Linked DNA regions of Homo sapiens: regions 1 and 2 are each reported to be linked to region 3. Evidence: microRNA targets listed by miRTarBase, many of them from high-throughput screens and not tested one by one. Region 3 holds a microRNA gene; each other region holds the end of a gene's coding sequence.
What was found. The annotated mature microRNA hsa-miR-922 reads GCAGCAGAGAAUAGGACUACGUC and lies in region 3 at 4,812-4,834, shown strand. An mRNA with a match to its seed (bases 2 to 7 or 8) in the 3' UTR can be bound and repressed. Matches are read on the target gene's strand: a 7mer-m8 pairs with bases 2 to 8, a 7mer-A1 pairs with bases 2 to 7 and ends in A, and an 8mer does both.

Region 1 (7,156 bases), not on the chromosome of region 3:
TGGGAGGCCGAGGCGGGCGGATCACCAGAGGTTGGGAGTTAGAAACCAGCCCAGCCAACGTGGTGAAACCCCGTCTCTACTAAAAACAAAAATTAGCCTGGCGTGGTGGCAGGTGCCTGTAATCCAGTTACTTGGGAGGCTGAGGCAGGAGAATCGCTTGAACCCAGGAGGCAGAGGTTGCAGTGAGCCGAGATCACACCACTGCCCTCCAGTCTGGGTGACACAGTGAGACTCTGTCTACACACACACACACACACACACACACACACACAAAGAAAAAACATAGGAATAAATGTAGTGGTCAAATGGTTGTTTGTCCAACGTCGACAGGAGTCTTATCCCTTGAGCAGGCCACACCTTCCCCAGGAATTGGCGTGGGCAGACACTCTGGGGTGGGCGGGGTGGGCCCAGGGGAGCATCTCCTTCCTCACAATTGGAGCATAAGCCACCAAAAAAAATGAAACAAATGTGCTTTGTGTACTTTCCTTGACTGAGGAGTAATGTGGGTAAGAGAAAGGACTCTTTGCTTATTTATGGATTTAGGACTCTGTGCTGATTTATGTAAGCACAGTTGCATTTCTGTGTAAGCGGAAGACAGATAATTCTTTCTATTAAAGGGGACGTTCAGTGTAGCTACTGCAGAGCACCGTCAGGACACAGGCCTCCCAACCAATGCAGGCTCAGCCCTCCACAGCCCCTCAGGAGGGACTCAGTGCATCTCAAGGGAGTTTTATCCTTAAAAACTAGAAGCCATATGGACATCTACTTTGGGAGGATTTGGTGGGCCTCAGGGGCCTCTAGCAGCAGAAGGCCCTGGCTTCCTGAACGCAGACGGTGCGGGTCTCATCACAGCAAACCCCCTTGTTTTTCTGTTCCTCTGCTGCCTTTCAGGGGACACTGTTTGGCTTTCACCCGGTCACAGGTGTACTAACACACATGACTAACACAGGATTTTTGTCTTATGCACACAGAACTGCATGGGAGAAACAAAACCACCAGCGAGCAGAGAGGCCGAGGCTTGGCTCTGCTGTGAGAGCGTCAAGGTCCCTGCAGCCCTGAGCTGCTGCAGAACCCACAGGAACCAACTTCCAGAGCTTGTTTCTGGGGTCCTGGTGCAGGGACCCCACCCACTGTGCTCAGATGGAGCTTGAAGCTCTCAGACCTCAGGCTCCCGTGGCTGCTATCACCAGGCTTCATGGCCCAGTCCCCAAAGTGGGTGGACCCAATTTTGAGGACTTGTGTTTCCCCTACTCCCTGCAGTTGACGCTGACATCAGTGTCTGCTTGTGGTTTCAGCCAGTATCTTGACATTTCTAAGATGGACAGATGGACTGGCCGAAAATAAGTAAAATACACTTTGAGTCAGTGAAGTCTTTTTTTTTTTTTTTTTTTTTTTTTGAGATGGAGTCTCGCTCTGTCGCCCAGGCTGGAGTGCAGTGGTGCGATCTCGGCTCACTGCAACCTCTGCCTCCCGGGTTCAAGTGATTCTCCTGCCTCAGTCTCCTGAGTAGCTGGGACTACAGGTGCGTGCCATCAGGCCTGGCTAATTTTCGTATTTTTAGTAGACATGGGGTTTCACCATGCTGGCCAGGATGGTCTCGATCTCTTGACCTTGTGATCCACCCGCCTCAGCTTCCAAAGTGCTGGGATTACAGGCATGAACCACTGCACCCCGCCAAGTCCTTTTTTTTTTTTTTTTTTTTTTTTTTTTAAATTGAGATGGAGTCTTGCTCTGTAGCACAGGCTGGAGTACAGTGGCGTGATCTCGGCTCACTGCAACCTCTGCCTCTTGTGTTCCAGCGATTCGCCTGCTTCAGCCTCCTGAGTAGCTGGGACTACAGGCCCCTGCCACCACACCCGGCTAATTTTTATATTTTTTAGTAGAGACGGGATTTCACCATGTTAGCCAGGCTGGTCTCGAACTCCCGACTTCAGATGATCAGCCTGCCTTGGCCTCCTACGGTGCTGGAATTACAGGTGTGAGCCACTATGCCCAGCCTAAGTCAATTAAGTCAAGTCTAAGACTGAACCTATTTTTAAAGTTTACTGCTTTAGGTTGTGAGAATATAATTTTGGCCATTCTCCTTTCCTTCCAATTCTGGTTCTCTTAAGAGTTTCAGAATTGTTGTATTTTACTTAACCTTTAAAAACTGAAATTTTGGCCATAGTGCTTTTTTTGGGGAGGGGCAGCAAATTGTCGTAGGGAGATGGAACATTCATTTGTCAGTTGACACACCTATGGGAATCAGTAAGTTCTTTTTTAGCCGTATTTTCCTTGGCATAACCAGCTCCAAACTGCAGCAACCTCTTTCTGCAAGGAGACAAACTGAGCTTTACAAAGTTTGTGGCCTAAACTCTGGTAGCAAATGCTGGACCAATTTAAATGAGGGTTTGCAAGCAGGGTGACAGTTTACAAATGCCGCCTGAAGCAAATCGAGACATTGGTTAACCTGGGAGTGGGGAGGGCTGGGGTGAGGAAGGGAGCCGTGGGCTGGTGTGTGGACATATGTGCAGGCATGTGGTCTGAGCGTACACATATGTAGCATGCATGTGTGTGTGTGCGGCCAGGCTGCCTGAGTGGTCCATCCAATACCCACAGCATTGCTCATCCCATGAGCAAGTCATCTCTCATGCTCATACAAATGATTTATGTAATACATTTCCAGCCAGAAACACTTTCACTTAAGCTTTTCTTTTGCTTTTATTACAAGCATATAATATTAATTGGCAAAACACTGAATACAAGCTTCACTATCATAAAATCAAAACATTTAAGCAATATTCCAAAAAAGATTTGACAAAAACTAGCCACCAAGAGTACAAAAATTACACACCAACACAAAGCATAAAAAATGTAAACTTTCAAATTAAACAGTCAAACACATGTATCTTCGTGATCACCTCCACACCTCGACTGCCTTCGTCTGCCGTACGCTGCTGGTAAAGGCTGGGTGGCTGCACTGTCTTCCCCAACCCAACATTGCTTTCGTCTGGGAAAATGCGTCTGATAGGCAATTAAGCCATGGGAGTGGACATTTACACGGAGGCTACGCACATCTCAGGGGAACGCTCAAACTGCAGCTCGTTCCTCAGACGCACTGTTGGGTGCGAAGGACACCTGGAGGGTGAGGGAGACCTCGGCGCGTTCCTGCAGGGCCTTGGCCACGTGGCCATTGCCCGCACCCTGTCCCGTACAAATTATGGTATCATTTGAATGATTTTCTAATCTACTTATCTCAATTTATGTATTTAAATGTCAAGGCAGAGAAATACATTGATCATGTTAAGGTCATGTGATGTGGTGGCGCAGTAATGACTTCCTGAGGAAACAGAGAAATTGGATGTTTTGTGATTTAGCTATGTGCACTAAACTTATTTTCCATGTTTTGAGAGCACATTAAACATTCACGTACAACGTGGGACTAGGTTGGCTTGTACCCAGAACGTCCAACCCAATGCCACCCTTTGAATCGCTGTGAACACTGTTCTGTTGCTGTTCAGAGAAAACAAGCAAGGCTGCGAAGCCCGGGGGTGCAGGCAGCTGCAGTGCTTGGGCCAGGGCAGCTCCGCTCTTGTGGTCTGAGGCCACATGGCCCTGCCCAGGGGCAGCCTGGCCACAAGCACGTGGGGTCCAAGGCACCAGGACCCAGGCAGGACTGAGGTGGCCCCACAGCGTGGCCCGAGGCATCACTGGCTGACGGGCACTCACACACAACCCCAATAACAGCATTCTCACAATAATAACAATGAAAAACGAAAAACCAAACAGCTGAATGTACATATTTTGGAATTCCATCTATGTTCCCTTTCAATTTAGCAAAATAAATGCTACATTACCATTTAAACAGATGTCTAATAAATGCATATTGGAACCTATTGCACAAAAGCATAAAAAATGCTCTTCATCCACATAAAAACATACAAATTAAAAGCTACTCAAAGTAAAAAGAAGCTTGCAAAACATCTCACAATTTCATTTTATATGCCTGTAAATAAAGCTGGACCACTGAAACCAAACAATTGGATGGGAAAATATGATAGAAGGCTTAAAATAGAATAAATAATTTTATAAAGTTAAGTTTTCTTTTTTAACCCCCCAAATCTTAAATTCAATATTATATATTCTATTTGAATTTTCTATGTCCATGAAAACTGCATCGGTGAGACCGTATTCCGGGTAATTAGCCCCACTGCTGTTGAAAACGACGCATAAGGTGATTTAACAGCATTTGTTTTACCAGCATAAATAGTTGTGAAAACTTCTTCACAGTAACTCCATCTGTTTAAAAAAAAAAAACCAATAGAATCCAACCACTAACCGATCCTGGCTTTCATGCTGGAAAAAATGAAATTCAGCCTTTTTCTGTGAAATGAGAGGTTGACAGAAAGGAAAGAAGGCCGCCCAGAGGCTCCACAGACGGCAGGGCCATTGCGCTCCAGCCTCCAACGACTAAGGCTGCAAGGTCAGACGAGAGGCAGAGGCCCCAGGGCCGAGTCCTGTAGTGAAGACTGTCTGCACGATGAACTCCTAGAAAAATAGGGACTTCTGCTGCTGAGGTTTTGTCAGGTTAACGCGGTTACAAAAGCAGGGTCACCACTGGCTGAAGACATCGACACGGGCGCCACTCGCCCGTCTGTGTATTTAAATCTATCAGCTTAGCACCATTGCAAAGTCAAGTGATTTCAAAGATAGCTACAAAGTTACAAATATATATTATGAGATTATTACAATGATATTCAGTTTCATCTGAACTGTGATTTAATTTTATTTGAATTTGGAGGCTTGTAACTGTTTAATCCTTTCTTATTCCGCCACACAGGAAAATGCCTAAGTTCTAACGTTACACTTAAAACTGCACTGTGATAACACACGGTTGTACAGAATGCTTCAGCAGTATGTGTATTTTGAGGTAGACAGGTAATATTTATTCATACACAGCTACTCATAGACCCTTATACAGTGACTCTAGAAAATGATTTGGATGAATAGCAAGCTTAGGTAACTGAGTAACTCAAACCGTCCTGGGAGTTGATGGGCTTAAAGAAAGAGATGAATTTTGACCAATTCCTAACAAAGAACTTGCTTTTGTTTTAAAAGGCCTTACACTGACAATCACTCAGATGGAATTAATATGCATGTTTTTCTCATCCCTAAGATAAGGTCTCTTGAGCTGCTTTTTATCTAAAGGAAGCAGAAGAAAACAGCGAAATTCAAGAAAAAAAATCTCCAAGGTGGTTGGCTTCTTGGAAAGCCTGAATGGTGGCCAAGGACCACCTGGGCTCCCAAGGAGTGGAGGGAGGAGGGATTCAGTTCCACAGGAAATAAATGGGAACAGCCCGGTGGAGAAGACAATGACAACTGCAGGACAACACCTCAACCACTCCAGAAAACAGCCCTTGCTCCTCCTTCTGGCCTTTTCATATTTCCAAGTTACTGTTTTAAAGGAAAAAAAAAAATGTGTGTGTGGCTGTTTATTCTCTAATGTGACAAAAACATGACCATCCGGGAGGAGAGGGGCTAACGGTGCAACCAACTGAGGCTGAAACACAGATTCAGCTGAAATGCAGCTTCTGCAGAGCGGGGGCCGGCTTCCCTCCTAGCCCTTCAGCTGCTCACCCTGTCCCTGCAGCTCTGAAAAACGCCCTTCCAGTAAGCGGCCAAGGAGCACACGAGCTCCTCCCACCAGCAAAGGGGAAGGGGAGGCCTTGGACAGACGGGGCAGTGAGTGTGTCTGGGCATGAGCCCGAAGCCACCACCAGCAAATCCTCCCCACGGATGCCAGGAGAGCTCTGATCCTAACCACCACCACCTCTCCCTTCAGCAAAATCAAAACAGGGAAAGAAAACATAGGAAACCAAACGGCGGCACTCAACAATTTGGGGGAACAAGTAATTTTTAAAAGTAAGAGTTGTTCCGTAAACCAGCACTGAGCTGGTCACACGGCCTCTGGTCTACCTGCTGAGCATGTCAGAAATCCCGACGTGGCGTCTGGGGCCCCGTTTCCAGGGCTGGGTGTGTCAGCCACAGGTGAGCGACAGTTCTGAGTGAGTCCAAGTGCCGACCTCACACAATGAAAGGCGAACCAGTCAGGGAGCTGCTGTTGTGTTTCATAAGGTGGGAAATTAAATACAATGGTTAAATCATAATGTTAATGGAAACCTCTTTTGGTTTGCTTTTAAATTAATTTTTTATATAACTTCTAAATCTTCAAGAAGCTAAAGGCAACATAAATATTGTCATTCACCATGAAAAGACATTTTTTCAATAACTTAGGAAGGATTCAATAAAAGTCCAACTACACTTGAGGCTTATCATGAAACCTAAAATTCATAAACTAAACTGAAGTGAATTCAGATTTTCAAGACCTGGAAAGCAAGCAGAGGGAGCTCGTGTCAGAAGGTGACTCAGAACCGTGTTGCCTGGAGCATCACTCTCCCTGCAAGGCTGAAGCACGGGGTGGGGCGGGGGAGAGGACGATCGGCTCTGGGAGACTGTGAAGTGTTTTCATCCTCTGTAAACGTGGTGCTGGTAGTGTCTTGTTGAGTGTGAATTCTCTCTCATACAAAAGTTATAAATATTCTCTATTCAGAAGTCTGGTCCACATGACACCCAGAGGCAATGTTCTTAAGCGCGGCGGCCGGGAGCACCCAAGGGTGCGAGGGCCCAGTCTGTGGGCGCTGTGTGGCACCATTCACAGCAAGTCCATCTTGGGTCTGTAGTGCAGCAGGAGCGGCGCCTTCTGGAAGACACAAGAACGCACAGTGCCTGCTTAGCAGGGGTGGAGGCGAGAAGGACCTACTTCATCGGGAAGGGTGCTGAGGAATCACGTCCCGTGAGGCACAGTCCACATGCAGGGCTGCACAGAGACCCTTCTGTTCTGAGCAACAGAAGGGTCCCCCAGAAGTTGCTGGGGGAAGACGGGCTAGGAAGACATGTGCCCTCTCCCCTGGCCCCAGGTGACCCAGTGACCACTGTGCACACCGTGGTGGCCACCTGTACCTGATGTGGCCCTGGCTGCCACTCCCCTGCCCCCTTCTCCCTCAAACCCTCTGGCCCAGCCCCAGGCCAGCCTTGGCTCCTCCCCCTCTCCCCAGGCAGCAACACCAGCTGAGGTGGGAGAGTTCCACCATTGGTTTCCTGCTTCAGAGGGGCCCAA
Region 2 (7,187 bases), not on the chromosome of region 3:
GAGCGGCTGGACGCTTTGCTGGCGGACGAGGAGCGCTGTTTGAGTTGCATCCTAGCCCAGCAGGTGCGGCCGGGCTAGGGTCAGGATGGGGTAGGGCGGGGATCCGCGGTTAAGTCCCCCGTGACGGCACGTTCCATTCCCCTAGCCCGACCGGCTCCGGGATGAAGAACTGGCTGAGCTGGAGGATGCGCTGCGAAATCTGAAGTGCGGCTCGGGGGCCCGGGGTGGCGACGGGGAGGTCGCTTCGGCCCCCTTGCAGCCCCCGGTGCCCTCTCTGTCGGAGGTGAAGCCGCCGCCGCCGCCGCCACCTGCCCAGACTTTTCTGTTCCAGGGTCAGCCTGTAGGTGAGGCGCAGGTGGAGAGGCGGGGTCACCAGGAGGTTGGAGTCTGGGGAGGGGCAGGGGTCGTTGCCGGGTGGGGATGGGTGGGACCGGCGCTGGGGGTCCCCGCCCTCACCCCGTTTCCCCACTCCCTCTGCAGTGAATCGGCCGCTGAGCCTGAAGGACCAACAGACGTTCGCGCGCTCTGTGGGTCTCAAATGGCGCAAGGTGGGGCGCTCACTGCAGCGAGGCTGCCGGGCGCTGCGGGACCCGGCGCTGGACTCGCTGGCCTACGAGTACGAGCGCGAGGGACTGTACGAGCAGGCCTTCCAGCTGCTGCGGCGCTTCGTGCAGGCCGAGGGCCGCCGCGCCACGCTGCAGCGCCTGGTGGAGGCACTCGAGGAGAACGAGCTCACCAGCCTGGCAGAGGACTTGCTGGGCCTGACCGATCCCAATGGCGGCCTGGCCTAGACCAGGGGTGCAGCCAGCTTTTGGAGAACCTGGATGGCCTTAGGGTTCCTTCTGCGGCTATTGCTGAACCCCTGTCCATCCACGGGACCCTGAAACTCCACTTGGCCTATCTGCTGGACCTGCTGGGGCAGAGTTGATTGCCTTCCCCAGGAGCCAGACCACTGGGGGTGCATCATTGGGGATTCTGCCTCAGGTACTTTGATAGAGTGTGGGGTGGGGGGGACCTGCTTTGGAGATCAGCCTCACCTTCTCCCATCCCAGAAGCGGGGCTTACAGCCAGCCCTTACAGTTTCACTCATGAAGCACCTTGATCTTTGGTGTCCTGGACTTCATCCTGGGTGCTGCAGATACTGCAGTGAAGTAAAACAGGAATCAATCTTGCCTGCCCCCAGCTCACACTCAGCGTGGGACCCCGAATGTTAAGCAATGATAATAAAGTATAACACGGATTTTGATGTGAGAAATACAAGTAGTAGTGGCTTACACCTGTAATCCCAACAATTTGGGAGACAGAGATAGGAGGATTGCTTGAGCTCAGGAGTTTGAGACCAGCCTGGGTAGTCCCAGCCACTTAGGAGGCTGAGGTGGGAGGATCCCTGGAGCATGGAAGGTTGAGGCTGCAGTGAGATGTCACTGAGCTACTGCACTCCAGCCTGGGTGACAGAGTGAGACCCTGTCTCAAAAAAAAAAAAAAAAAAAGAAAGAAAAAAAAAGAGAAGTTGTGGAGGATGGAGGAAGGGGCCTAACCTGGGCAGGGGACAGGGGGTAGGCTTCCTGGAGGAGATGAGTGTGAGTAGGCATAGGGGTGGGCTATCGAGAGAAGGGCAGTGTTCGGGGCACAGTCTCAGGCAAGGGCTTGAGGAAGGCTTGTGGGTTTTTCAATGAGGCCAGTAGGAAGCCTTTGAAGAGTTTCGGGAGTTAAGACTGGGAGGTGGTTGTTTTTTTTTTTTTTTTAATTTTAATTTTTTTTCAGATGGAGCTTCACTCTTATTTCCCAGGCTGTAGTGTAATGGCACGTTTTTGGCTCACTGCAACCTCCACCTCCTGGGTTCAAGCAATTCTCCTGTTTCAGCCTCCCAAGTAGCTGGGATTACAGGCGCCCACCACCATGCCCAGCTAATTTTGTATTTTTAGTAGAGATGGGGTTTCTCCATGTTGGTCAGGCTGGTCTCAAACTCCTGACCTCAGGTGATCCACCCACCTTGGTCTCCCAAAGTGCTGGGATTACAGGCATGTGCCACCGCACCTGGCCAAGACTGGGAGGTTGATGAGGATGGGGGTGGGGGAAATGGTGGCCCCAGGCTGGGGCAGTAGCAGCAGAGATGGAGGGAAGGGGATGACCACCAAAGAGCTGTGTGGGTGGAAGAGTAACAGGCCTGGTGACACTGGGTGAGGAATGGCTGAGAGAGGGCCCCAAGTTTCTGCCTTTGCCAGTTGGATGGTGGGTGGGACTGCTTGCTGGGATGGGGCCCTGGGGGGAAATGAAATGCTTGCTCTGTTTGGGACAAGTTGAGCATGATGTTCCTGCAGTGCATCCGGGGAGAGAGTATGAGGGTAGTTGGGTCTGTAGTTCTGAGTTCAGGATGAGGGTTCAATCTAAAGATTGATGAATAGACAGGTGGGGAGTGGGTGGGGTGGCCCCAGGGGATGTCCTGAAGGACACCAACCAGAATGGGAACAGCCAAAGAGGAAGGAGGAAAACCAGGAGATTTGGAAACCAGGGGATTACCCACCCACTATAATGGAGCGGGTAGTCAAGACCGAGGAGTGTCTGTTGGACTCAGTTAAAAGGAGCTTACCAGTCAGGGGTCTTTCTGAGTCATGGTGGAGGCAGCCCGAAGCTTTATCACAGGAGGGAATGGAAGGTGAGGCCGCGGAGAAAGCTGGAGCAGAGGACTCCTGATTACTTTGTGACCAAAAAGAGTAAGGCTCAGGGTGGAGATTTGGCTTTTTTTTTTTTTTTTTTTTTTGGAGAGAGTCTCACTCTGTTGCCAGGTTGGAGTGCAGTGGCACGATCTCGGCTCATTGCAGCCTTCGTCTCCCGGGTTCAAGTGATTTTCCTGCCTCAGCCTCCCAAGTACCTGGGATTACAGGCACGTGCCACCATACCTGGCTAATTTTTGTATTTTTAATAGAGACAGGGTTTCTCCATGTTGGCCAGGCTGGTCTCAAACTCCTGGCCTCAAGTGATCCACCTGCCTTGGCCTCCCAAAGTGTTGGGATTACAGGAGTAAGCCACCACGACTGGCCTTTTTTTTTTTTTGAGACAGTCTCGCTCTGTTGCCCAGGATGGAGTGCAGTGGTGTGTTCTTGGCTCACTGCAACCTCCACCTTCCAGGTTCAAGCAATTCTCCTGCCTCAGCCCTCTAAGTAGCTGGGATTACAGGTGCCCACCACCATGTCTAGCTAATTTTTGTATTTTTAGTAGAGATGGGGGTTTCACCACGTTGGCCAGGCTGGTCTTGACTTCCTGACCTCAAGTGATCCACTCACCTCAGCCTCCCAAAGTGTTGAGGTTACAGGCATAAGCCACCACACCCAGCCAGAGAGGTGGCTTTTTAAGATTGAACATTGGTGGGAAGAAGCCGTCAGGAGCAGATATAGCCCTTGGACAGAGGATGGGGCTGGGTTCTTAAGAGACCAGTAGAGGCTGTCTATTCCAGGCTCCACCACATGGGCTGGGACCAAGAAAGAGAGAGCTGGCAGCTGAGCTGCGCAAGGACTTAGCTCTCCATTGCAGAGCACCTCTGTCCACCTGCATCCCAGAGCAATCCTTTAGCCAAGGCCTCCGCCAGGAGTCTTCCCAAGCTGTCCCCATCCTTGCCAGCCCTGTCTGACCTGCAGCTGCACAGGCCTGATCATTTCTACCTGCAGTAGGCTATGCTGGGGACCAGGGGACTCAGAACTGCACCTGGCTTGGGCTCAGGTCCATTAGCCCCCGGGGAGACAGGCTGAAGTGCTTGCCTGTGAAATTAAAGCAGACTGGGTTGGCCCCCTGTTCTGTATCCCAGTGGATGAATGAGCGGGGCAAGGACAGATAAAATAATCCTGGCCTGAATTTCAGAAGACCTGGGGGCAGAGCTTTCTGGCCTTTGGATCCTGGGCAAGTCACTTAACTCCCCGAAGAGCCCCCCAGTGTCCCCATCTGGGCATGAATGAGAGCTGCTGGCAGAGTTGCCCTGAGGATTGGGTGGGCTGCCTTGTTTGTCCCGTGCGTGTGTTTACTGGGGGTGGGGAGCATGGCAGAACCAGGAGTAAGAAGACAGCCATGTGTCTCGGGGGCAGCGTATGCACCCTGCCTGATGGAATCAGGGCTGCTGAGGAGAGGCCCGCCCGGGATGGTGGCCAGGTTCATGCGCATTTGGAACCGGCCTGCTCAGGGGCTCCTAGCAGCCCAGGCTCCGCCCCACTCCAGAGACGCGGGAGTGGGGAGTGGATAGTTGGGGGAGCTAACCAGGGGAGTTGATGCTTCTTCCCAATCCCCAGAAAGGCGAATTTGGGGTGTGAGCACCCAGACCAGCCCTTCCCAGAGGGACTGAGAGTGAGGAGGCTCCCTCTCAGGGATTAGTCCCCACTCTGAGGCCGGAGTGCTCCTGGCGCCGGGGCGGAGCTGAGCTCCAGAAGTCTGGGCGCGCACAGCTGGAGGGTCACGTGGCACGGCACCGGTCCCCCTTCCTGCCAACGCTGCATTTGGCTCGGGCCCGGTCCATGGCGGCCCCTCGGACCCTGCGCTGAGCCCCGGAGGCCAGGGCGTCCGGGGCTGCGCCACTTCCGAGGGCCGAGCGTGAGTGTCGGGACCCCAGGGCCCGACATTGAGGGGATGGCAGGGTGGAAGGGATTCGGCCTCAGCGCGAGGGAGGCGGGCGGGGGAGGGGCCGAGGCTCCCAGTCTCCCTGCCCGGCCCTGGGTCGCAGTCCTGGGCCGGAGCTGAGGCCGCGGGGGAGTTGGCTACATGGGTGAACTTCTTGTCCCTTCAGGCTGCCGGTCCCGGCGGTGCGACACGGCCGGGAGGAGGAGAACAACGCAAGGGGCTCAACCGTCGGTCGCTGGAGCCCCCCCCGGGGCGTGGCCTCCCGCCCCCTCAGCTGGGGAGGGCGGGGCTCGCTGCCCCCTGCTGCCGACTGCGACCCTTACAGGGGAGGGAGGGCGCAGGCCGCGCGGAGATGAGGAGGAGGCTGCGCCTACGCAGGGACGCATTGCTCACGCTGCTCCTTGGCGCCTCCCTGGGCCTCTTACTCTATGCGCAGCGCGACGGCGCGGCCCCGACGGCGAGCGCGCCGCGAGGGCGAGGGAGGGCGGCACCGAGGCCCACCCCCGGACCCCGCGCGTTCCAGTTACCCGACGCGGGTGCAGCCCCGCCGGCCTACGAAGGGGACACACCGGCGCCGCCCACGCCTACGGGACCCTTTGACTTCGCCCGCTATTTGCGCGCCAAGGACCAGCGGCGGTTTCCACTGCTCATTAACCAGCCGCACAAGTGCCGCGGCGACGGCGCACCCGGTGGCCGCCCGGACCTGCTTATTGCTGTCAAGTCGGTGGCAGAGGACTTCGAGCGGCGCCAAGCCGTGCGCCAGACGTGGGGCGCGGAGGGTCGCGTGCAGGGGGCGCTGGTGCGCCGCGTGTTCTTGCTGGGCGTGCCCAGGGGCGCAGGCTCGGGCGGGGCCGACGAAGTTGGGGAGGGCGCGCGAACCCACTGGCGCGCCCTGCTGCGGGCCGAGAGCCTTGCGTATGCGGACATCCTGCTCTGGGCCTTCGACGACACCTTTTTTAACCTAACGCTCAAGGAGATCCACTTTCTAGCCTGGGCCTCAGCTTTCTGCCCCGACGTGCGCTTCGTTTTTAAGGGCGACGCAGATGTGTTCGTGAACGTGGGAAATCTCCTGGAGTTCCTGGCGCCGCGGGACCCGGCGCAAGACCTGCTTGCTGGTGACGTAATTGTGCATGCGCGGCCCATCCGCACGCGGGCTAGCAAGTACTACATCCCCGAGGCCGTGTACGGCCTGCCCGCCTATCCGGCCTACGCGGGCGGCGGTGGCTTTGTGCTTTCCGGGGCCACGCTGCACCGCCTGGCTGGCGCCTGTGCGCAGGTCGAGCTCTTCCCCATCGACGACGTCTTTCTGGGCATGTGTCTGCAGCGCCTGCGGCTCACGCCCGAGCCTCACCCTGCCTTCCGCACCTTTGGCATCCCCCAGCCTTCAGCCGCGCCGCATTTGAGCACCTTCGACCCCTGCTTTTACCGTGAGCTGGTTGTAGTGCACGGGCTCTCGGCCGCTGACATCTGGCTTATGTGGCGCCTGCTGCACGGGCCGCATGGGCCAGCCTGTGCGCATCCACAGCCTGTCGCTGCAGGCCCCTTCCAATGGGACTCCTAGCTCCCCACTACAGCCCCAAGCTCCTAACTCAGACCCAGAATGGAGCCGGTTTCCCAGATTATTGCCGTGTATGTGGTTCTTCCCTGATCACCAGGTGCCTGTCTCCACAGGATCCCAGGGGATGGGGGTTAAGCTTGGCTCCTGGCGGTCCACCCTGCTGGAACCAGTTGAAACCCGTGTAATGGTGACCCTTTGAGCGAGCCAAGGCTGGGTGGTAGATGACCATCTCTTGTCCAACAGGTCCCAGAGCAGTGGATATGTCTGGTCCTCCTAGTAGCACAGAGGTGTGTTCTGGTGTGGTGGCAGGGACTTAGGGAATCCTACCACTCTGCTGGATTTGGAACCCCCTAGGCTGACGCGGACGTATGCAGAGGCTCTCAAGGCCAGGCCCCACAGGGAGGTGGAGGGGCTCCGGCCGCCACAGCCTGAATTCATGAACCTGGCAGGCACTTTGCCATAGCTCATCTGAAAACAGATATTATGCTTCCCACAACCTCTCCTGGGCCCAGGTGTGGCTGAGCACCAGGGATGGAGCCACACATAAGGGACAAATGAGTGCACGGTCCTACCTAGTCTTTCCTCACCTCCTGAACTCACACAACAATGCCAGTCTCCCACTGGAGGCTGTATCCCCTCAGAGGAGCCAAGGAATGTCTTCCCCTGAGATGCCACCACTATTAATTTCCCCATATGCTTCAACCACCCCCTTGCTCAAAAAACCAATACCCACACTTACCTTAATACAAACATCCCAGCAACAGCACATGGCAGGCCATTGCTGAGGGCACAGGTGCTTTATTGGAGAGGGGATGTGGGCAGGGGATAAGGAAGGTTCCCCCATTCCAGGAGGATGGGAACAGTCCTGGCTGCCCCTGACAGTGGGGATATGCAAGGGGCTCTGGCCAGGCCACAGTCCAAATGGGAAGACACCAGTCAGTCACAAAAGTCGGGAGCGCCACACAAACCTGGCTATAAGGCCCAGGAACCATATAGGAGCCTGAGACAGGTCCCCTGCACATTCATC
Region 3 (7,187 bases):
GCCAGTTGTCAGTCAGAGCGTAGGACAGTCTGAAGCCAGTTGTCAGAGCATAGGACAGTCTGGAGCCAGTTGTCAGAGCGTAGGACAGTCTGAAGCCACTTGTCGAGTTAGAGCGTAGGACAGTCTGAAGCCAGTTGTCAGAGCGTAGGACAGTCTGAAGCCACTTGTCGAGTTAGAGCATAGGACAGTCTGAAGCCAGTTGTCAGAGCATAGGACAGTCTGAAGCCAGTTGTCAGTTAGAGCACAGGACAGTCTGAAGCCAGTTGTCAGAGCGTAGGACAGTCTGGAGCCAGTTGTCAGAGCGTAGGACAGTCTGAAGCCAGTTGACGAGTTAGAGCGTAGGACAGTCTGAAGCCAGTTGTCAGTTAGAGCATACGACAGTCTGGAGCCAGTTGTCAGAGCGTAGGACAGTCTGAAGCCAGTTGTTAGAGCGTAGGACAGTCTGGAGCCAGTTGTCAGTTAGAGCGTAGGACAGTCTGAAGCCAGTTGTCAGTTAGAGCGTACGACAGTCTGGAGCCAGTTGTCAGAGCGTAGGACAGTCTGAAGCCAGTTGTTAGAGCGTAGGACAGTCTGGAGCCAGTTGTCAGTTAGAGCGTAGGACAGTCTGAAGCCAGTTGTCAGTTAGAGCATACGACAGTCTGGAGCCAGTTGTCAGAGCGTAGGACAATCTGAAGCCAGTTGTCAGTTAGAGCGTAGGACAGTCTGGAGCCAGTTGTCAGAGCGTAGGACAGTCTGGAGCCAGTTGTCAGAGTGTAGGACAGTCTGAAGCCAGTTGTCAGTCAGAGCGTAGGACAGTCTGAAGCCAGTTGTTAGAGCGTAGGACAGTCTGGAGCCAGTTGTCAGTTAGAGCGTAGGACAGTCTGAAGCCAGTTGTCAGTTAGAGCATAGGACAGTCTGAAGCCAGTTGACGAGTTAGAGCGTAGGACAGTCTGAAGCCAGTTGTCAGAGTGTAGGACAGTCTGAAGCCAGTTGTTAGAGCATAGGACAGTCTGAAGCCAGTTGTCGAGTTAGAGCATAGGACAGTCTGAAGCCAGTTGTCAGAGCATAGGACAGTCTGGAGCCAGTTGTCAGTCAGAGTGTGGGACAGTCTGAAGCCAGGTATCGAGTTAGAGCATACAACAGTCTGAAGCCAGTTGTCGAGTTAGAGCGTGGGACAGTCTGAAGCCAGCTGTCAGAGTGTGGGACAGTCTGAAGCCAGGTGTCGAGTTAGAGCGTAGGACAGTCTGAAGCCAGTTGTCAGTCAGAGTGTGGGACAGTCAGAAGCCAGGTGTCGAGTTAGAGCATAGGACAGTCTGGAACCAGTTGTCGAGTTAGAGCGTGGGACAGTCTGAAGCCAGCTGTCAGTCAGAGTGTGGGACAGTCTGAAGCCAGGTGTCGAGTTAGAGCGTAGGACAGTCTGAAGCCAGTTGTCAGTCAGAGTGTGGGACAGTCTGAAGCCAGGTGTCGAGTTAGAGCATAGGACAGTCTGGAACCAGTTGTCGAGTTAGAGCGTGGGACAGTCTGAAGCCAGCTGTCAGTCAGAGTGTGGGACAGTCTGAAGCCAGGTGTCGAGTTAGAGCGTAGGACAGTCTGAAGCCAGTTGTCAGTCAGAGTGTGGGACAATCTGAAGCCAGGTGTCGAGTCAGAGCATAGGACAGTCTGGAGCCAGTTGTCAGAGCGTAGGACAGTCTGCTCTGGGTGCAGCATGCAAGGCTTCTAGAACCCCAGGGTTTAAAGGCCCTGGGCTTCCCACACTGGATTCCTCTTCTCACATCTCCCTCCCACTCCTGCCCCCCTCTCTTTCTTTTCAGCTGCTGCGGGTCCAGCTGTGTCACATGAAGAACATGTTCAAGACTTGCCGACTGGCCAAGGAGTAAGTCCTTTTGGAGCTAGAGCCCTCTGGCCACGTTGCTGTCTCCGAAAGGGACACATCCCCGCGCTTGGCTCTTGTTATGTAACGAAGGAGAGTAGAGAGATTTTGCAGAACTGTAAAGTGGTAAACAGGAGGCCACAGCAGTAACTGTATCTGTGTCCTTCTCTCTGGAAGGGGATCTGTGGTCATTCCATCCAGGACAGGCCACCTCTCTTCCCAGGCTGGGTCTCACATGGGCCACTCTGCAGGAGCCTATAAATCAGTCACTCCTGCCATCCAGACACCTAATAGCGTGGAACGGCTGCGGCGGCCTGGAACCTTGGGCTGGCTGATGGGTGCCCACCCTCATTACTTTCTGCAGTTTCTGGATAGGGATCCTTCTACTACGATGTGGCACATGCACTGTTCATTCCCTCACCTGCCTCCTGTCACTCCCTGTAGGCTTCTGGATTCCTTTGACACAGTCCCAGGCCACCTGACAGAGGACCTCCACCTGTACTCACTGAATGACCTGACTGCGACCAGGAAGGGGGAGCTGGGGCCCCGGCTTGCTGAGCTCACCAGGGCAGGGGCTACCCATGTGGAGAGATGCATGGTGAGAAAGTCTCACTGTAGCATGCAGCTGAGCCCTTGCTTTTAGGGATACAGGGAGGGGGGTGGACCTGGGGTTCTTGCCACTTAGCTTGAGGAAGTTGAAATGGCCAGTCAGCACTGGGAGAGGAACTGGAAAGGGCTGCTGTTCCTTAGCCTGGAGAGCAGCCAAATCATCCTGATCTAAAGAACCTCGAGTGAGGGGAGGAGCTGGTGCTGGCTGTGGTCCTGGGTAGCTCCGGGCAAGACCGAGTAGACTTTCACTCAAGAAGTGTTGGCCAGGCACGGTGGCTTAGGCCTCTCATCCCAGCAATTTGGGAGGCCGAGGTGGGCGGGTCACCTGAGGTCAGGAGTTCAAGACCAGCCTGACGAACATGATGAAACCCCATCTCTACTAAAATACAGAAATTAGCCGGGCATGATGGCGGGTGCCTGTAATCCCAGCTACTCGGGAGGCTGAGGCAGGAGAATTGCTTGAATCCAGGAGGCGGAGGTTGCAGTGAGCCGAGATCATGCCACTGCACTCCAGCCTGAGCGACAAGAGTGGAAAAAAAAAAGGCAGTTGTCATGATGTGAGAGGAGAGCTCTGGATTGGAATCGAGAGGGAGTCTACCCTCGGCCGTCATTTGTTGTTCTCAGTCATTATGACCAAAATAAATACTTTGTCCCCTCTGAGGCCTCGATTTTCTTGGCTCTAAGATGAAGAGAATAATTTACTTTCTTCTCAGTATTTTTGAGGGTTGATGGGGTAATTTGTATGACAGCGTTTTGTATACTTTATGTATTCCTCAAACGCACGTCGTTATTGTCGTCATCTACTCAACATGTTGAAAATGCAGAAATTACACTTTTAGAACTTCCTGTCTTAGCCTATGCCCAGTTTATGTTCCTGTGACCGTCCCATAATTCGAGCTGGGCACAGGTAGGAAACCCTGTGTGTCTGGGAGGAACTGGAAATCCTTCACTACAACCTGACTCCAGGCTTGGAGCTGTGTTTGAGGAACAGCCTCGTCTCCACATTTTATCTTAATTGCTTGTGGTTCCTATTCTGAAATAAAATCATGACCCAGATGGGACTGTCGGCTTAGGAAGCCCTTTGTGGTGCCATTTCCTCCTTCTCCTCTCTTCATGGAGAGCCGCGCTGGGGGTCGGAGCTTCTCCGGCTGGTGCCTGTCTGATCTTCTGCCTAAAGCTTTGTCTAACGCTGCCCGGCCCTGGTCCTAGTTTAGCTTTCATGCTTCTGAGTCCAGCCCAGGCCTCCTCCCTGTGGGCAGCAGAACCCTGTAGACCACTCCCCTCCTCGGTGTTCACCCTCCCGTGCCAGTTCCTGATGTGCCGCTCCTCATTTTGCCATCTGTGTTTTTCCTCCCCAGCTCTGCCAAGCCAAAGGCTTCATCTGTGAGTTCTGTCAGAATGAGGATGACATCATCTTTCCCTTTGAGCTCCATAAGTGCCGGACCTGTGAAGGTGAGGGCAGGTGCAGGCATCGGGCAAGTGAGCCTGAACACAGGGCTCCTTGATTCCCCAGAGCCACCCCTGTTAGCAAGAGTTCGGTGCCACTCAGCACCTCGCGGGGCCTCCCCAGGGGACACCACGCCTTGGTGGCGAGAAGGGGCTGTGGCAGCAACTGACCTCTAGCTGGAGATAATACAAATTGTTTTCTTCTCTCCCCCACCTTCCCAACCTGAGTAGAGTGTAAAGCGTGTTACCATAAAGCCTGCTTCAAGTCTGGAAGCTGTCCGCGCTGCGAGCGGCTGCAGGCCCGGCGGGAGGCACTGGCCAGGCAGAGCCTGGAGTCTTACCTGTCAGACTACGAGGAGGAGCCCGCGGAAGCGCTGGCCCTGGAAGCCGCCGTCCTGGAGGCCACCTGAAGAAAGCACGTGCAGCCCTCCCTCCGGGCCGGGTCACACCTGTTGCAGAACTGAGCCACTCTTTGAAGGACTCGCCCCACCTGGGGCTTCTTTTTTTTTTTTTTTTTTTAATTATCATCATCTTTTTTTTTTTTTTTACTGACTTGTCTGACGTCTGTGTGCAGTCAGCCGTCGGCAGGTTGATGGGTCCAGAGTCTGTGGTGACAGATAATTTGTAAACACCAGGTGTTTCCATCAGAACTGACATGCGGGTCCTTCAGTGAAGCTTCTAGTGCCTCTGTCAGTGGAAGAGACAGCAAGACCAAGTTCTTCCAGCGTCTGTGGCCTTCTCCTCTAGGTTTCACCTGCATGTCAGGTATCATTTCCAATTTTCCTTTGTTTCAGTTCTGGAGCTTCTGAGCCAGGCCTTTCTCAACCACCTCTCCTGCTGCTGAAACGGGGATGGCGTTTTCCCTCTCCCTGTCCTGGACTGGGGTCAGACTGTGCCCCGAGGAGAAGCAGCAGAGAATAGGACTACGTCATGGGCATTTCGTCCACTTATTTGGGTATTTTGGGGGCCACAGAACAATCCTGACTATCCTAGACTCCTCAGAGACCTCAGAGGCAGCTGTGAATGTCCCTATGTTGCCGGGAGTTCCTGTTTGAAATATTTGAAGCATAGAGGATGCCACAAGCTGACTTTCTTCATCTACCTTGGTGATCTTGAAGCAAAGAACAGAACTGATGCTCAGGCCAGGCTCACCTGTAGCCTTACGCCGCAAGCATACGTGAGGCGCCAGCTCTGTCGCTGAAGGAGCGCTTACTCAGAGGAGCGGTCGGCCCCCTCTTGGTGTTAAGGTCTCTTAGTTAACCTGGCTTTTTGGTGCAGGTGTGATCTTTGAAGCTCAGGCAGGTCCCTGATGCCATCCTAAGGTGAGGACAGGAACCTCACCCACCATCTTCTTAGCGTGTCCCTGATGACTCTGTCCTCTGTTAGATGGTCGTTGTGCTTCTGAGTAAAAGTACAACCCGACTCCGTTCTCTCCCCTTCCTGCAGCAGAGCTGGGTCCTTCCCTGGTGGCCGAGTCTCTCTTGCCTTAGCTTCTTTGGTCAAAGTTGGAGAAAAGCTTCCTGCTATTAGTGCTGTTACAGAACTTGACGGTTTGTGGATGTGAGTGTGAATGTCCCTGTGTTCTTGGGATAACAAGAGCCTTTATGCCAATTATGCACTTAACTCTGTGTAGCCTGGTAATGTTTATCTGTTCATTTGATAATGCTGATTTTAGTGTGCTGCCCCCCTCCCCCCGTTAATGTGTGTTGATGGTGAAGTCCTTTTGATAATGCTGATTTTGGTGTGCTGCCTCCCCCTTCCCCCCCGTTAATGTGTGTGTTGACAGTGAAGTCCTTGGGTGGGGCCATGTGTGTGTTTGTGATGTTCCTTAAGTTGATGCAGCTTCTAACCTCTGTGAAAACACTGGTCAGAGTGGCTTCTCCAAGAGCTGGCAGCTCTGTGAACTAAAGCCTGCATCATTTTTGTTCTGGGATTGAATTCTGCCCATGGGCATGTCTTCTCATAGTTGCTTGCTGGTAGGAAAGAAATGGGCGTGGGTGCTGCCCTGGAAGCTGAGCGGAAAGTTGCCTGTGGTTGGTGGAAGCTGATGAGAGCTTGAGCTGGCGGTAAGAAGGAGTCTCCCAGGGAAGTGGGAGAGGCATTAAGGTGATGGCCAGGGCTGAGGCTCCACCAGCGTGAGAGGGAACATGTGGGAACTGGCCCCTGCCCTTGATTCCTCTGCCTCAAAGTTGGGATCTGAAAGCCATGTAGGGCTAGAAGACCCTGAGGCTGTTCTCCCTTCTGTTCATAGTGAGACTCAAAAAGCCAAGTCCCAGAAGTTCTGAAGGGCTGTGACTAGAAGTGCCCAGGTCCTTCAGGGAGCTTTAAGAATGACCCCACAGAACTCAAGTTTAACTAGGGGTTAGGTCCCAGATTCAGACCCAGGAGTTTATAAAAATGAGCTCTACTTCCAGTTTTGGTTTAAATTACACATCCAGGCCAGGCACAGTGGCTCACACCTGTAATCCCAGCACTTTGGGAGGCCAGTGCGGGCGGATCATGAGGTCAGGAGTTTGAGACCAGCCTGGCCAATGTGGTGAAACCCTGTCTCTTCCAAAAATACAAAAATTAGCTGGGCGTGGTGGCACACGCCTGTAATCCCAGCTACTTGGGAGGCTGAGGCAGGAGAATCGCTTGAACCTGGGAGGCAGAGGTTGCAGTGAGCCGAGATTGCGCCACCGCACTCCAGCCTGGGTGACAGAGTGAGACTCCGTCTCAAAAAACAAAAAGGTGACACATCCAGCTCTTTCTCCAGGTCACTGCGCTGGAGGACAGATGTGCCGTCTTGTCCTGCCTGTTTCACATCAGCATAGGATCAAAGGATGACAATGCTGACAGCTTCTGAAGCCGAACTCAACAGTCTCATAGGCTCCTCACTTGTCACTTATTTTTCCCTAGCTCCCTCAACCGCACCCCATCCCTTTAGATCGTGCGTCTGTTTTAGTGACTCTGACACGATGCCGTCCTCACCTTCCAAATACCCAGTTATTTATTCAAGAGGGGGGAAGTGGGTAGAGGATGGGATGTTTTGGAAGCACTTTGCAAGTTACCACTATCTGAAAATCCCCTGCTGTTGCGGGGAGAAGCTTTGAATGCACTGAAGAGAATTCCTTCTAAATGAAGGCAGGTGATAGTGTTCTTTCTGTAAGTAAAGGGAAAGAAAAAAAACATAGTTTGCTTACCAGGTGGAGACAAGATTCAAGACATAGCAGAAGAGTGGAAGACAAATATTTTCCACTTAAATGAGGCTGTTTTTGACGTTCTCTGCCAAGGATTTAGAGCT

Region 1: miRTarBase lists PCGF3 as a target of hsa-miR-922. Seed matches in the 3' UTR shown: 7mer-A1 at 4,888-4,894.
Region 2: the mRNA of TRADD is a reported target of hsa-miR-922. Seed matches in the 3' UTR shown: 7mer-m8 at 901-907.

What each region holds. Positions count from the first base shown.
Region 1 is chr4:765,615-772,770 of GRCh38, reverse strand. It overlaps PCGF3 (polycomb group ring finger 3), which reads right to left. Exons shown (of 11, transcript NM_006315.7): 11 at 2,682-6,739. The coding sequence ends at 6,692. The region is part of intron 1 of LOC124900163 (chloride intracellular channel protein 6-like); the gene reads left to right. All of the region lies in intron 1 of PCGF3-AS1 (PCGF3 antisense RNA 1), which reads left to right. Among named protein-coding and RNA genes, the nearest start is that of PCGF3-AS1, 13 kb to the left of the region's middle. RefSeq lists enhancers at 3,083-4,024, 6,728-6,787, 6,877-7,156.
Region 2 is chr16:67,148,253-67,155,439 of GRCh38, reverse strand. It overlaps TRADD (TNFRSF1A associated via death domain), which reads left to right. Exons shown (of 5, transcript NM_003789.4): 3 at 1-63; 4 at 146-344; 5 at 481-1,255. The coding sequence ends at 791. It overlaps PHAF1 (phagophore assembly factor 1), which reads right to left. Exons shown (of 16, transcript NM_025187.5): 16 at 6,896-7,187. B3GNT9 (UDP-GlcNAc:betaGal beta-1,3-N-acetylglucosaminyltransferase 9) reads left to right here and starts at 4,442. Exons shown (of 2, transcript NM_033309.3): 1 at 4,442-4,575; 2 at 4,769-7,187. The coding sequence starts at 4,955. The coding sequence ends at 6,163. RefSeq lists silencers at 4,487-4,646, 4,657-5,086.
Region 3 is chr3:197,672,145-197,679,331 of GRCh38, reverse strand. It overlaps MIR922 (microRNA 922), which reads left to right and starts at 4,756; the gene lies at 4,756-4,836. It overlaps RUBCN (rubicon autophagy regulator), which reads left to right. Exons shown (of 20, transcript NM_014687.4): 17 at 1,791-1,852; 18 at 2,294-2,447; 19 at 3,817-3,910; 20 at 4,136-7,187. The coding sequence ends at 4,314.